Homo sapiens: one gene and its partner. The protein of the gene in region 1 purifies or fractionates together with the protein of each later gene. This does not show direct contact. Each region holds a gene or a part of one and is shown on either strand. Other genes may lie near its edges.

Region 1 (7,820 bases):
CTTCATTATCTCTTCCTCTGTATCTGCAACCCTGTGCCTAGAATGCTGATTCAAGAAAAAACCCAACACGTCCTTTGCCTAGAACACCCTACCCAAACCCTTGTAAACCTGGTGAGTCCCAGGAATCTTTTCATTCCCAGCTCAATCCTCATCCACTGTTTAGAGCTTTTCCTACAGTCTCCAGGTAGACGCCAAGCATGCCCTCTATGCTAACAATGAGCCTTGTACAGACTTCCAATAAATCTAACTCATATATGTCTCCTGCAGGGTTCCTTGAAGATGTCCCTTGTCATTTTTCAAGTACCACTCCAACATTTAACACTTGGGAACATTCCTCTGCAGGTAAGAAGTATTTTTTTCACTTGCTAATTATCTGGAGTACAGAGCCTTCTCTCAGCATAAGTCACCAGTCCGGAACAAAGGGAGTGTCATGTTAATAACACCATTATTAAAAGACTACAAAATGGCAATGCATGGGAGTGTATTATAATAGCAGAATATAATGTACCTCCTTCACTTCTTTCACTAATTCCCCAAGAGTTTTGCCTTTACTGCAACTGAACAGGGAAGGCCCTTAATGAGTTTGAATTGACCAAATATTAACCAGCCTCCAGTGTGCAAACTGATTTTAAAATAGCCCTTGACCTGGAAATACAGGTGTATTCAAATACACACCCTGATAAGAAAGGACAGACAGGGATAGAGTTCAATATCTATCAGCTTGCCAAGTCAAAAGTTCCTCATGATAAACTCTAAAAGTAGAGCAGTATTTTAGATATGGTTTGAATATGTTCATCCTTGTCTAAGAAATCTTGACAAAACAGGTTACATATAGCAAAGTCTACTTTCAGAAAACAAAATCCAGCTGGACATGTGTCAATAAAAACCAACAGTACTGCATTGATAAATAAATAAATATGCAGCGAGGTAACCTAGTCACAGATAGCTAGAGACAACAGTTCTAATGAGTCAAATCACACTACAGAAGTAGTTTCCATTTTAAATACATTATGGTGTTAAAAAAAGAAAAAACTTAATTCCGAAGGTATTTTATGCATGGCTTCCTGAACATCTTTTCTCTTAACAAAAGCTTGTTAGCTTTGTCGAGTTAAGGAAGTCAGCATAGAGAAGCTGGTATTTCCTTGATGCTAAACTATACCAGTGCTAAAAACAAAACAAAACAAATCCCAACCTAATTAATTCTATTTTGGGTCTAGTTTCCAAGGCAGTTTTCACAAAGACTATTCTCAGCCCACTGTTCCTAGTTTTGTAACTTCAACCTTCAGTAGCTGGAAATTGTTATATTTTGGGTAATTCCTTGACACTTATGTTTTATTACAGACTCATTTTATTCTACTTACTATCAAGGGTAAGGGGAAAAGTGTCACTACATTGATTCCATTGATTCTAAAGTTTTAGTACTAAGAATCACGTTTACGTTTATTTCGTGATATCATGTGATATGTTCCTATTAGGGCTTTGTAATTTGGGTTACATCAAACTCATCAACATCAACTTTCAGGTGGAATCCTCCCCAAATCAGAACTGCCAGCCAGTCTCAGCAACCACATAAACCAGAAGAAAAGGAATCAGGAAACTTAGATTCTAGTTTCAAGAGCCACGAACTTGACCTTGGGCAATCCACCTCACTTCTGTAATTCAAACTGCAATGCCTGCTTCCAAAGTATGCTTCTAGAAACAGTTTACGTGTTTTGGGTTTCTCAAATAAAATGGAATTTTCTAAACAGACGGTTTGATACAACAATCTATTCTCTGGTCCAATTTCCCAAACCATCCAGTCCATAAGATCATAAAACTGCATTTCTTCACAAGTTCTTACTTGCACCACTATATTACCAAACACGCCCGAATTCCTTTTCTAGCTTTAAACAGATAGTAATATCGCATCTACTTATTCTTAAATGTGAAAGAAGAGTAATCTATAGAAAAGGAAGTGAAAAGTCTTCATGAATTAACGTCGGGTTATATGAAATCTACTGGTAGACAGAAGAATTGCACTGTCTGTCGTGTACTCAAAAGAAGCTGGAAGATTACTATTATGTCACGTGCATGATACTCTAAAACCTCCAAAATCTATCATACTGAAAAAGGATGGAGAAAATGTAAGTGCATATGGGGCAGCGCGAGAAGCCAAGCCTCCCGCGTCAGGATCCGATGAAATGATACAGCCGACGGTGGCACGTCTCTAGTCCTTACTAACTTTGTTCCCTCTACTGAAAAGAGAGGTGAGGTGGCAGCTACTAACTGCACTGCAGCCCCTAGGAGGACAGGTTCCCTCCTGATTCCAGCGTCGGCCCCAGATCCTGAAGAAGGGACCGGAAGAGGATGAAGCTAAACTGTAAGCCGGGTTGAGTGGCCCATTTCTCCCGGGCAGCGGCCGCGGTCATCCTGGGAACCTCACCGCCACTGGGATCCCGGGTCCCGACCCCCTCTGGAGAAGGAGGAAGCAGTGCCAGGCAGGGAGGAAGGTGCACCGGCAGCGTGCAGCCTCACCTGACGCTGGACGGGCCCCACCCTTGCTCTCAAGTGTCCCGCTTCCAACCAGGACCCAGCCAGGGCGCGGCGTCCGCCTCTCTCGGCTCCACTTACTTTGTCGCTGGTGCTCTCGGTTTCGTGGTCGCCGCCGGCCGCCTCTCCCTCGCGGTGTGGCGGCGACACCGCTTCCCTGGGGCCGGGGCAGCTTCCCCGGTGCCTCAGCTCCAACATCTTCCGCTCCCGCGCTGCCGTGGCGGCCTCCTCAAGCACCCCGAAACCTGAGCTGCAAGCAGGGTTCTGCAGGCGGGGCGCCCCGCCACCTCGCAGCCGCGCCCTGGAGTCCCGCGGAGCCGCAGCCACTAACGCGGCCCCACCATAGAGCGGCCGCCGCGCCGGTCACCTCCAAAACGGCATCAACGAGAGAGCGCTCGAGGCCGCCTGCAGCGAGCGCGGCTCCGGCGGAGGTCCCGGGCAGGCTCCGGGCGCCAGGCGCGAGCAGAGAAGGCGGAGACGCGGCCTCCGGTTGCCAGGTGCGCGTCTCCACGCAGAGGCCCAGGTAGGAGGAGGAGAAGGGGCGGGGAGAAAAGGAGGACGCTTGACCCGCTTTAGCGCGGCTCTGGGCTCCCGCCGCCGCGCAGGCCCCTCCCGCCCCGCCCCCCGGAGCCGGACTCGGAGCCGGCTTGTCCCGGCCCCGCACACTTCTCCCTGCCCGGGCCTCCCGCACCAGGTCTCGCGCCGCAGGCCCCGCCCCTCTGCGCTGCACTGCGGTTCCCACAGCCCCGCCTCCCCGTGAGGTGACGTCAGGAGCCCGGCCCGCGACCCCGCCCCCGCCTCTGCGTGCTGGCAGGTGGGGGCCTGAGAAAAGGTGGGAGCGGTGGGGCGGGAGGAGGCTGAGGAGCTGGGAGGCGGAGGCGGGGCCAGCGCGGGCTGGAAGTGAGCGTTGAGAACTTGCAGGCTAGTCCCTGGGCCGCTGCGAGGGCTGGAGGAGCTACTCAAAGACGCCCGCTAAATGTTAACAGCGCTCAACACTGCTGCTTCAAACGCCTCCCCGGCCTTGTCAGCTTGACACGCGCGGCGGGTCGGAGGCTCACTGGACCAGAAACTTGTCTGGCAGGACGGACTGGTTGGCCCCGCGGCATTCCAGCCCAGTGTCATCACCTTGAAAACAGGAGATGCTTTTGCCTCACTGGGCGTCCAGAGGTGCGTCGGCCAACAATTCCGATCACAACCGCAGCGCCGTCTCCCAGAAACTCAGTACTGAATCTCACAAAGGTCACCACCTAGGATCCCAACACAGTGTGAGATGCTATGGGACGCCGTTGCCCTCCAGCTAGTCTCTGAGCAGTGGTGGACCTTGGGCTGCCAAAGCGGGAACAGGAAGGGCACAAGATCTGCATTAATTCTAGTCTTAATCCTGTTAGAAGGTGATTAGTTTTCTTGACATGTATCCGCCACCCGGTCATTACTGACAAGCTAACAAATGAAAAAAAGAGAGAAACAAAGAGAAAAAAGAAAAAAGGCGGGCCTTCACACAGGACAAGGTTCAGGAGAGCACCCTTATAGAAATAGATCAACTATGTAAATTCCTCAAGGTCTTTACTGACACGGTAAAAGTAAGTAAAGTGTTGAAAATTTACTAACAAATGAGCAAAACCAAAAGTCAAATTAGGATGCATTGAAAAGCAGAACACAAAGACATCATTTTACCTCACCAAACAGATCTTTGAAGCTGTGCGGTTAGTTTGGGTTGCACGTTTTCAAAAGGATGTCGAGAAACCATAATTTGTTCCTTATGGGGTGGATAACTGAAATGACAGAGAAGATTTGAAAATAAGTCCCTACTGAACAGAGAACTATGGGGTGACTACATTAATAAATTGTCCAATTGTTTGGAGGATCGGAAATGAAGGAGTGCTTGATAGTGAAGAAGATAATCAGAATAATGGCTGAAGCCAGTAGTAGGGTTTCCATCTCTGGCTACTACCCTACCCTGCATAAAGGATTAGAAGTGCTCCATTCTAACTCTCTGGAAGTCAAGAAGCCTGAGTTCTAGTGCTGCCAATGCCACTAATTGCATGGCCTTGGTAAGTTATTAACCCTCAGTGTCCTCAGCTGTAAACGGATAGTAAGGATGGCCTCTGTGGTCCCTTTTAGCTCTTAGACGATCAGAATCCAGCCTTTGCTTTCCCCCATGGTCCAAGAAAAGGAGACCTACTACACAAGGTACCTGAACAACTTCCTGTTTCCCCTTTGCCTAGTCCTCTCATGGCCTCTTTGACTTTTTCCCTTTGCTGCAGGAGGAAAAAAGAGAGTGAGAGGAGTGACAGAGGGGAACAACAGAGGACAGTAGTGCGTGATAGAAGAAACAGTATTCCCCAACCCAGGAAAAGTGGGACCAATGCAAAGACTGCCAAAATAGAATGTGAGGTTCTACTTACCTCACCTTCCTTAAGCTCTGCTCCTTCTTGTGTTTTAGCTAAGAGAGCAATTTCTTTCAATCTTCTTCATTATAGCTATTACCACTAGTTGAGTGAATAGACTGAGTCCAGACAGCAGAAACTGGCTTATTCATCTTTACAGGTCTAGCTCTTTCCACAGTGCCAAAAACCACCCTTCTATAGGTAACAATGTTTGCTGAAGAGGTGAATGAAGAAATGATGGGATGGCAAAGGTATAGCACAACAAGGGAAATTTATACAGTCATATGTTGTTTAACAGTGGGGATACATTCTTAGAAATGCATCATTGGGCAACATCACAGGGTATACTAAACCTAGATGGCATAGCCTACTGCACACCCAGGCTACATGGTATAGCCTATTACTTAGACAACTGTAACACAATGGTAAGTATTTGTGTATCTAAACATAGAAAAGGTACTATAAAAATATGGTATTATAATCTTATAGGCTACAGTGGTATATGTGGTCCATTGTTGACTGAAACATTGTTATGCAACCCATGAATGTATAGTATTTATGGTTTCTTCATTTAAAGTCTATTTTAGACTTACATAGACACTTTTCTTCATTTTCACTTTATATCAGAGAGAAGTTGATTTTAATACTTATTAAAAGTGGTTGTAGTAATGACTTTATTTTACTTAAGATACTGTACAATATACTCAACCACAACTGGCTTACGGAACTCTGTGTTCTCAGACTTTTTCTATGTCTTTTTTCTAATTTTTCCTTTTTCTTTCTTTTTTATTTTTATCTTTCGTTTTCATTCAGGGAACTTATGTTCTCTAAATTTATTGTATTTGTGTTTGGTAACACAAAATCTGGCGTGTAATGGTTTCTAAGGCTTTACCTGTTAATTTTTCTTGTATTTATCCTGCTGAAGGGCTTCATGGAAACCCTAAGCATATGCATGGGCCTAATCACGTAGTACAACCCAGCCAGCACTTCTTGGATTGATTTTAAGATTTTCCAGCCGGGCGTGGTGGCTCACATCTGTAATTCCAGCACTTTAGGAGGCTGATGCATGAATGTCTCTTGAGCCCAGAAGTTCAAGACCAGCCTGGGCAACATATGGAGACCCCATCTCTACACAAAAATTTAAAAATTAGCTGGGCATGGTGGCGTGTGCCTGTAGTCCCAGCTACTTGGAAAGCTGAGGCGGGTGGATTGCTTGGGCCTGGGAGTTCGAGGCCTCTGTGACCCCTGTTCACTCTACTGCACTCTAGCCTGGGTGACAGAGTGAGACCCTATCTCAAAAAAATTAAAAAAAAAATTTTAAAAAAAATTTTTTTTCACCTTCTAACTCCTAATGAGGAATTTGCTAGAGAGATGAGAGAGAGTGCTAACGTTATTGCTTATATGGTTTTTATTTTAGATTACTGTTTACCTTCTCTTTTGCTGGAAGTAATAAGAGCATAAGATGCAGAGACGTTGCCTGAAGTAGTGAGAGTAGATGAAGCAGTTTGTTACCACTCTTCCCTGAATACCCTCAGAATGTTCCCAGACTGATAAACATGCCCCTCTGGGGTGGGAATGTGAATCTGAGCTGCTTTTCACATCAGAGGCTCAAAGGTGCCCTGCTGGAATGTCCCCAGCTTGCCAGGGGCGGAAGAAATCTTCCTCAGCCAAGCGTTTCCAGTTGCTTAGATACCCAAGTAACAGCTTTTGTCGCTTGACCTATCTTTCTCTGTTGCCCTCTGTCAGCTTTGTTTATAAGTTAGAGGTAGGAATTTCTGATTTAGGCCACCAGAGAAACATTTTATGGGAAAATCTTGAAAAACAACTTATATTTACATTTTTATTTTTAATGGAATTGCACGGGAAAATAATGGTGTACTATCAAGTATTGTAGTGAGAGAGTATCAGAGGAGAGAGTGCTATGGTGTAGTTAGAAGTATGGAGTTTCTATACCAAGAACCCTGGGTTTGAGTCATAGCTTGAACCTAGCTTGAATCATAGCTTGAATCTAGCTGTGACCTAATTTGCTTTCAGCAACATTTTCATCAAACACAGCTGAAGCTATATCCTAAATGACATGTTCCTTCATAATTTAAGTAATAATTCTTTACATAACACTTTACAAAGCACTTTCGCATGCATTATTTCATTTCTTCTACTCAACAATCTACAAGCTAGGCATAACAAATATTACTCCTGTTTTACAAGGAAGAAAACCTGAGGCTTAGATGTAAAGGGTTAGAAAGGAAAGCTAAGTTTTTATACTTAGTATAAGTATAAAACTTATATTAAGTTTTATACTTCAAAATCTGCCTGGTCCATGATGTAGTACAAATATATAGCAGCAGAAACAAGCAACTTCTAAAGCTGGGGGTGGGGGTTAGTTTGTTATAACAGGCACATAAATTCTGAAGCTAGCCTGAGTTCAAATCCCAGCTCTGCCACCTACTGGCCTTAGGCAATTAGCTTCAGTGTCCTTGTGCAAAATTAGGATAAGGTAATATTTTCTTCCTAGGATTCTTATGAAGACTAAACTGGTTAATATATGTAAAATACTTAGAATAGTGTCTGGCCATCGTGAAGCACCACACAAGTGTTACTTATTACTATCATTCATATTATTGAAAGCTACATTTCTTGAGGAGAACAATATTTGACTTCTAAATTCGCTAAACTGCAACACCCCAGAGGACTGTGAAGAAATAAGGATATGCTGATATTGCTTTGGTGAGGTAGGTAGAAATTATGAAATGGGGTAGAGAGACTTTGCAAACAAGTACAAAGAAATCAGCCTACCCAATTAGTTAATTTGTGCCTTATCCTTCTGAGGTAGTACAATTAATGAATTTGGCATTCCCCATTATTAACTGAAATCAGTTACTACTCTTCTACCTTGTATATAAT
Region 2 (7,941 bases), on another chromosome or scaffold:
TCCTACTAGACTATGAGTGCTTATAAGGGCAAGAACCTTATCCTAGTCTTCTTCATATCCCCAGCCATCCAACACAAAGCCTAGCACATGCCAGGGTGAAGATGCTGCGTAAGGCCTCAATCCCACTGAAAGCTGGAAGCAGTGGGACAGAAGGGTTCCAGAGAGAGGTTAAAGAAGAAAGTGAAGGGGGAGAATATGGAAATCATAGGGAGATCAAAGTAAGGGGATATGTCAGAAGAGAGAGACAGCATTCTTGCAAAGCATTGGGATTAATAATATAAAGAGCTCACCCAAAACAAGTGAGGTTAATTATAATAACCCCAATGTTTCTGCAGCACATACTCAGTGTGTAAAACACAACGTTAGATACTGTGAGGCTACAAAGTAAAATAAAACACCTCTCTTTATGGTTTGGTTGGGAGGATAAGACAAAGGTGGATAAGGAGACTGACAGCATCCAGGCATACTCAATTTCTTAAGTTTCTTAAAGTTCAGTACCATTTTCAACTTTAAGACTTTTAATATGAAGCCCCTCAGCAGTAAATAAGGTATTGTTTTACGAAATATTAGATATGGAAACTGACTTCCCTAGTTGAGATCTCAGGAAAGCTCAACAAGGCTAGACTAGAAACAACTTTCTTAGAAAATGGACATAGAATTGTCAATTTTAATACCATTTAAAAGTATTTATGGCTGGGCGCGGAGGCTCACGCCTGTAATCCCAGCACTTTGGGAGGCCGAGGCAGGCGAATCACAAGGTCAGGAGATCGAGACCATCCTGTCTAACACGGTGAAACCCCGTCTCTACTAAAAATACAAAAAATTAGCCGGGCGTGGTATCGGGCACCTGTAGTCCCAGCTACTCGGGAAGCTGAGACCAGAGAATGGCATGAACCCGGGAGGTGGAGCTTGCAGTGAGCCGAGATGGCACCACTGCACTCCAGCCTGGGCGACAGAGCGAGACTCCGTCTCAAAAAAAAAAAAAGTATTTATCATGTCTATGTGTCCCAAACTGTATATTATGAGCTTTTTTGAAGAAGGCAAGATCAGGGATGGAAAGGGAGGAAAGGTTTCACAGAGCATCTGAAAGGAGTGGATGGAAAACAAGGGCATAAAAATAGACAAAGAATAGAATTTCAGAGAAGGAGAATGGGAATGCACAAGAGACAATAGAAATAAAGAGATATTCCATTAACGAAATGGATTTTTAAAACTGTACATATGAATTAACTGTTTAAATAATGAGGTATCTGATGGCTGTAACATAAAATATGAGATATTAAGAAAATAAGTAGGATGCGCCTTTAAATTCTATGATAGGCACTTAGCCAAAGGTAATTGAAGGGATGCTAGAAAAGGGATTAGAAAATGAAAATGGTAAAGTTATTATGTGAATAAGAGATAAGATGTACACTCAGCGATACAGTTTATTATTATTATTATTGTTGTTGTTATTATTTTAGTGGTTCCTGAGAGAGAGAGGAATGTCCCAAGACATTATCTAGGTACTCAATTTAATTTTTTCTGTTTTATTATAGTGTGATACTGGGATGGCTTAGACATTTAATTTTTTATTTAATTTCAACAATCAATCCTGAGTAATTACTATGTGGTTGCTCCCAGAGACCAGTTATGACCTCAATGAGCAATCAGCTCAACAGGGATTGGCCGAGCAGAAAATGAACTCATCAATTGGGCATTATGTCCTAGGGTACTGAGGAGAGTATAAAAGGGGGCATAGGGGCCCTGCCACACTAGCTCTTCAGTAGTTTCTGAACATCTAGACGGTAGGATGTAGAATAGGTAAGTAGAAATGCAAAGCAGATATTGCAGTAATTGACTAAAGGGCTGGGTTAATGGGAGTGAGTGTGTAGTTAAGACAGTTATGGTGTTAGAGAAAGAGGTGAGGAAGGAGGGACTTTTTACTGAGTTGGGATTGAACTGGATATTCAGTAGAAGCAGAAAGTATGAGTGAAGTTGAGGGTGGGCAGGGACTAGGGAATAGGACTTGTTTAATTGGGGGGTTGATCATACTGACCTGGTACAGAGCAGAAAATTCACATTGGAAAAGCAGTAGGAAATCAGTTGAGATTGTATTGGGATGAGGGGCTTGGTAGGGATGGAGGGAGGCTGGAGGTGGCACAAGGGAGGTCTGACTTAACAGTGAGCCCTTGTTTATGTCATTTCCCTTGCCTGATGTCTAGCAATGAAAAACATTTACACCTAATCTTGAAGGTTACAGGAAATTAATTGGGAAGGGGGGCTACTAAATGTTCCATGTAAAACAAGCAGTAACAATACTTAAAGTATTTTCCTTTTTTCCTACATTGTTGGCATCAAATTGTGTTTCTGTGCTCAGAAAGAGGGAGAAATTAAGAGGTTGAACAAGAAAAAGTACTGAACTCTCTGCCTTACCACTCTGGGGCAGGTAGGGTTACTTCCTAGGTGGCTGGGCTATTGGAGTGAAGGCAAAAGCCAAACTCAACCAAAAAACCCCAAGTGCAAGGCAGAATTGGGGCAATCATTGAGGTTCTTAAGCTTCAGAGGCTCCGAGGAGTCCTTGTTTTAGGTTAAATGTCTGTGCAACAGCAGTCTTTACTCAGGTTACTCTGCGCAGAGGCAGCTGTACGTACAACAGCAGCTATGTTTCATCACAAAGTGGGCCCCATTTCTGATGAAAGACACAGAAGTTGCCCAGGTTTAGTCCTAGGCAGCTTACTTGGTCTCTTTCAACCTGTTTCTTCATCTGTAAAATGAAGGTGCTAGGTGTGTCAACCTCATAATAGGGTTCTTGTGATGTGTGCATACGAGGTAATGTGTATCAAGCTCTTAGCAATAGTGGTTGGTATACAGTCAATACTTATTATCACAGTCATTATTAATACTTTAAAGAATACATTTATCTAGTGGCCTAGGGAAATACTTCTTAAATTGCCTTAAACGGGATTAGATGCCCCTTTGGTCTGGGTTTGTACCCAAACCCAGGCCTAGGTTTGAACTAAATTGAATTTCTCGGTTTGGTGGCATTGTGGGGGTGGGGAGATGGAAGTGGGTGTAGCAGAGTAGGAGGCAATGGTGCAAGGTGTTGTAGCCATAGGAATATGAATTTCCATGTCAGCATTTGGTTTAATTTGGCACCGAGTGTTATTCAAACAAAGCAGCGTTGTGAGTGGTAGAGGAAGGGAGAGGAGGAAAGTCAACACATTCTTGGAAATAAGATGTGGCTTTTGCTTTGCTATTTTGTTTTTTCTTCAGCTACAGACATATTTCTTTGCTCTTGGGCTCACACTGTAAATCCCTTTCAGTACATATCTAAGTTTCAGAGAAACTTCTCTTTAAGATGACAAGAAGTTATCAAGACTTCCCTTGATCCTTGTTTTTAGTATAAGAACCCTTCAGTTGGGGTCATTTAGCCTAGGGAGAAATCTTTGCATATACTTAGACACCCCCCTCCACCATGTTGAATATTTGGTATTTCCTAACGACTTTACCTCAAAGTGTTTGAAGGTGTATGTAGATGTATCGTTTATCCATTCTCTCCATGTATTTGTGTATTAGGCCTTTCAAATTTTAGTAAAAATTTTAGTATAAAGCCTGGCAATGCAATAATTAATTTTCCAACAGTTGCTGCCTTGCACCTCAGACGTCTGGCAAGATGTTATAGGAACTGGTCCTAGGTCAATATTCGAAGCACAGGGAAGCTCTGTGTGACCAAGTCAATGGAACTTTCCTGTGTTCTGGTCCTGAGGTGTATGTTTAAAGCAACGTTTCAAGCAGAAAAGTTTGAGTATTCATCTCTCCTCCACAAATGCAGGTCTTTTTGCAATGGCAATAGAGTAAATAGCCACTTGTGATATTAAGCTTGTGTCAATGATGAAGGGTTGGATTGCATAGGGAACTGATACAGCCTTCTAACCCCGTTCCTCTAGAGATAACACAAACTCACTTAACACTCAGTCTCTGCCTTCAAAGAGCTGACGCTTTAGTTGAGAAATCAGACCTTAACGCACCTCCTGTGTTGTAACAACATAGACCAATATATTCACAATATATAACATTAGGTTTTAATCTCTCTGTAATCAGCTGGGTTTTGATGGGAAAAACCAGGTGGCTGGAATGTACAGTGCCTTTCTGTTTTAACATTTAAGAGGAGGTCACACTCACCAGGGATTTTTCCATTGCACTCTCTCTTTTTAAAAGTTTACAGCGAATAGCTGAACTTACATTTCACTATTATGTAAAAATACTTTCCCTCAACTTTCCAATTACTTAGGGGATAAAAAAGGAGAGGAATACTGGGGTTTTGCAAAGTCCTGCAGGTAAATTCTAAAGTCATTATTATCTTTAATACCTAGCTTAGAAATTCTTTCAACAAGTGGTGATTATTTTCCTCCATTCACATCTCCCCTTCCTAACCCATAAAACAATGTTCACAAATTGAAAAGCACACAAGTGAGAAAAAAATCAGCCTAATTCCACCAGAGGTAAATTTCACTGTTCCTTTCAGTTTTTGTCTAAGCACACGTGACTGTATGTATTGCTTTGCAATCCGCTTTCTTTTTGCAAATATATTTCTTGTGGGTATTTTCCCATGTATTTTCTTAGGTCGCTTTTAACCTCTTCATTCTTTTCCTTCTCTCTAGGGCACCAGGGGCCAGGGAGGCCCAATCTCAGAGCGCTGCGGGCTCTGCTGGTGATAGAAACAATATGGTGAAGTTATAAGGAGAGGGGAGGGGTGGGGGGCGGGAAAGATTCCTTAGGATAGAAAAAAAACAATGAAGAAAGCTCCACTTGAAGACCTATGAAATTTCCGACACTAGAACCTTTGTATATAGTTTTCGGTAACCTTCGGCAGGGGGCGCTCTGAAATTGTTGCCACTTTCCGGACAGCCTCCCATACTTTACCCTCTACAAAATTGTACAGTGTTTCCGGCCCTTCTCAGTTGTGGACGCTCGTAAGTTTTCGGCAGTTTCCGGGGAGACTCGGGGACTCCGCGTCTCGCTCTCTGTGTTCCAATCGCCCGGTGCGGTGGTGCAGGGTCTCGGGCTAGTCATGGCGTCCCCGTCTCGGAGACTGCAGACTAAACCAGTCATTACTTGTTTCAAGAGCGTTCTGCTAATCTACACTTTTATTTTCTGGGTGAGAGACGAAGGCGCCTGGGGCCGGCAGGGGATCCCGGGCTTTTAGTTGTGGGGGGTGTGACCCTGAGCGGCGGGAGCTCAGGTCGGGAACGGTGTGGGGTTTGGGCGGCCATCGCGCCTGGGACCCCGACGCCGGCGACCAGTGACTGGGCCCCGAACAAAGAGCTCAGGCATCTCGCCGGCGCTGGGGTCGGAGTGCGGGACGAAGGCAGCCGAGAGGCTGAGCTGGGACCCAGACGTACCAGCGTTCGAGTTCGATACGGGAGGCGAGGTGGGGCCTTAAGCCCCCAGAGCACGCAGACGGTGACCCTGGACCTTTGCAAAGGCAAGCAAGGCTTGCCCGGCCCCTTTGAGGGCTCACTTGCATAATAGTGTCTTTCTTTTCACTGCTTCGTAAGAGAGGAGTGTTTCGCAGGTAAGTATGGTATGCCTCCACTCCCGCCAGTCTATCCTTGGGCTTGCTTTTGTGTACCAGTCCTTTGTACCCTGTGCCCATCCCTACCTGGAGAGGACGGGGGAAGTTTCTGGAACTCATAAAATCACGTTTTTTTTTTCCCCTTCAAGGTTTTCTTCCTAAGGTTGGAGTAAGATAGTTAAGGAAGTTTTGATCCCTAGGGCAAATATGCCATGGGCTTGTGTTTACACACAAAAAGATGAATTTTAAGAATTTTGATAAGATACCTGGTCCACAGCCTGCTCTTGTGTGCAGATCCCCCCCTAACCCCTTCTACTCTTCCCCCTTGTCTGCCGTATCCCAGCATATTACACCTATTGTGCCTTAAATACCTCATGCGTTGTGATTTGAAGATGCTGCTGTACACAGTGCGTAACTGTTTGTATTCTCTGAATTCCCACATAGATCACTGGCGTTATCCTTCTTGCAGTTGGCATTTGGGGCAAGGTGAGCCTGGAGAATTACTTTTCTCTTTTAAATGAGAAGGCCACCAATGTCCCCTTCGTGCTCATTGCTACTGGTACCGTCATTATTCTTTTGGGCACCTTTGGTTGTTTTGCTACCTGCCGAGCTTCTGCATGGATGCTAAAACTGGTGAGTCCTTGTTTTCATTAGAATTGATTCTTGGTTTTAGAAAAGTTTTGTATGTTATAGAATTCCTTTGTTGGAACTGGCCATGGCCCTTTACAATTTTTCCTGTTCCTTATGGAAACTTATCAAGTAACAGTTCAGCTGCCAGTTTCCACTTTCAAAATAGACATGTTGTTATTTTCCCTGCCCTTTTCAATGAAAACATGATGAACTAATTGAGAAGACGACCATTATTTTTTCTTTGACTCCCTTTGCAGTTGTGCTATATCTTATTTATGCTGACTTGGACTTTCTTTCTTATCCTGCAGTATGCAATGTTTCTGACTCTCGTTTTTTTGGTCGAACTGGTCGCTGCCATCGTAGGATTTGTTTTCAGACATGAGGTAAGCCTGAATTAGGGAAGCTTAGCATGTTACATTTATCCTCTGAGAGATAAAAATGGATTTATTAAAGTAGAAGAGTCAGACCTCTGTATTTAAACCTGTAGCTGACAATAATGGCCTTCTTGTAAAAATTCTGGTCCACTTCTAATTTAAAAGAAAATTTAGAAAATTGTAAAGACTGATAGTCACCAGAAGAAAATTACTTACTTATATTCCCTGTCGTTTTTCTGTGTATAAATACCTATTAAAACGGAGATAGTACAATTTATAACTTTGCTGATAGGAAAATATTCAAAGCACAAAATTGATAACCTTCTTATGCCTTGCATTTTGAAAAGATTGGATATACTTAATGCAAATCATCAGAAGTTTAATATTGGGCCGGGCGCGTTGGCTCACGCCTGTAATCCCAGCACTTTGGGAGGCCGAGGCAGGTGGATCACGAGGTCAGGGGATCGAGACCACCCTGGCTAACACGGTGAAACTGTCTCTACTAAAAATACAAAAAAAAACAAAAAATTAGCCGGGCGTGGTGGTAGGTGCCTGTAGTCCCAGCTGCTCGGGAGGCTGAGGCAGGAGAATGGCATGAACCCGGGAGATGGAGCTTGCAGTGAGCCGAGATCGCGCCACTGCACTGCAGCCTGGGCAGCAGAGCGAGACTCCATCTCAAAAAAAAAAAGCTTAATACTGAATTAGAAAACAGGTAAACTTGGGGTTGTTCAAATAACATTCGGTGAGTAGCAAAGGCTCATTAATGAGAGTTCTCATAAAGTGGTAGCACAGCCTCCCAAAGTAAGGTTTTGTAGCTTACAAATTCCATAGGCATCGAATTTGAACTCAGTTTAAAGTGGAGAAAAATTAGCAGGGTGCAGAATACAGCAATACTGCATTGCCACTCAGATAAATACATATTCCCACAGCACTTTGAACTTGTAGTGGTTCTCATCATATATTTTAATGTTTTGCTTAGTAGTCCCCTCAGCTAACCTATACCCCTTAGAGGACAGGACTGTACCATGGAAGTTAATTACTATACATGTTGCTGCTGTCAAAGATATGACCATTGGTCAGATTCGAGAACTTATTTGACCTGAAACCAAAAACTTTCTAGAGGATTTTCTTACTGACATTGTGTTTCTTTGCTATAGATTAAGAACAGCTTTAAGAATAATTATGAGAAGGCTTTGAAGCAGTATAACTCTACAGGAGATTATAGAAGCCATGCAGTAGACAAGATCCAAAATACGGTAAGTGGTAACCACCACCTAGAGGGGAACACATTCCCTGTTGCCTCAGAGAAAAGAGCAGAGTCTGGCTACTAGATGTTATCCACCTGTAGGGGAAAGAAGTGTGACGTGTTTCATTTTCCTC

What was found.
Region 2: the proteins of CDS1 (region 1) and TSPAN6 purify together in Homo sapiens (affinity purification with mass spectrometry; 2 studies listed by BioGRID and IntAct, with this or other methods). This does not show direct contact.

Annotation. Positions count from the first base shown.
Region 1 is NC_000004.12:84,578,309-84,586,128, reverse strand, and holds the start of CDS1 (phosphatidate cytidylyltransferase 1), read right to left. Parts: upstream 3,003-7,820; 5' UTR 2,728-3,002; coding exon 2,611-2,727; intron 1-2,610. UniProt on the Homo sapiens protein: Catalyzes the conversion of phosphatidic acid (PA) to CDP-diacylglycerol (CDP-DAG), an essential intermediate in the synthesis of phosphatidylglycerol, cardiolipin and phosphatidylinositol.
Region 2 is NC_000023.11:100,633,807-100,641,747, reverse strand, and holds the start of TSPAN6 (tetraspanin-6), read left to right. Parts: upstream 1-4,941; 5' UTR 4,942-5,053; coding exon 5,054-5,140; exon of another isoform or gene 5,141-5,557; intron 5,558-6,001; coding exon 6,002-6,190; intron 6,191-6,495; coding exon 6,496-6,570; intron 6,571-7,718; coding exon 7,719-7,817; intron 7,818-7,941.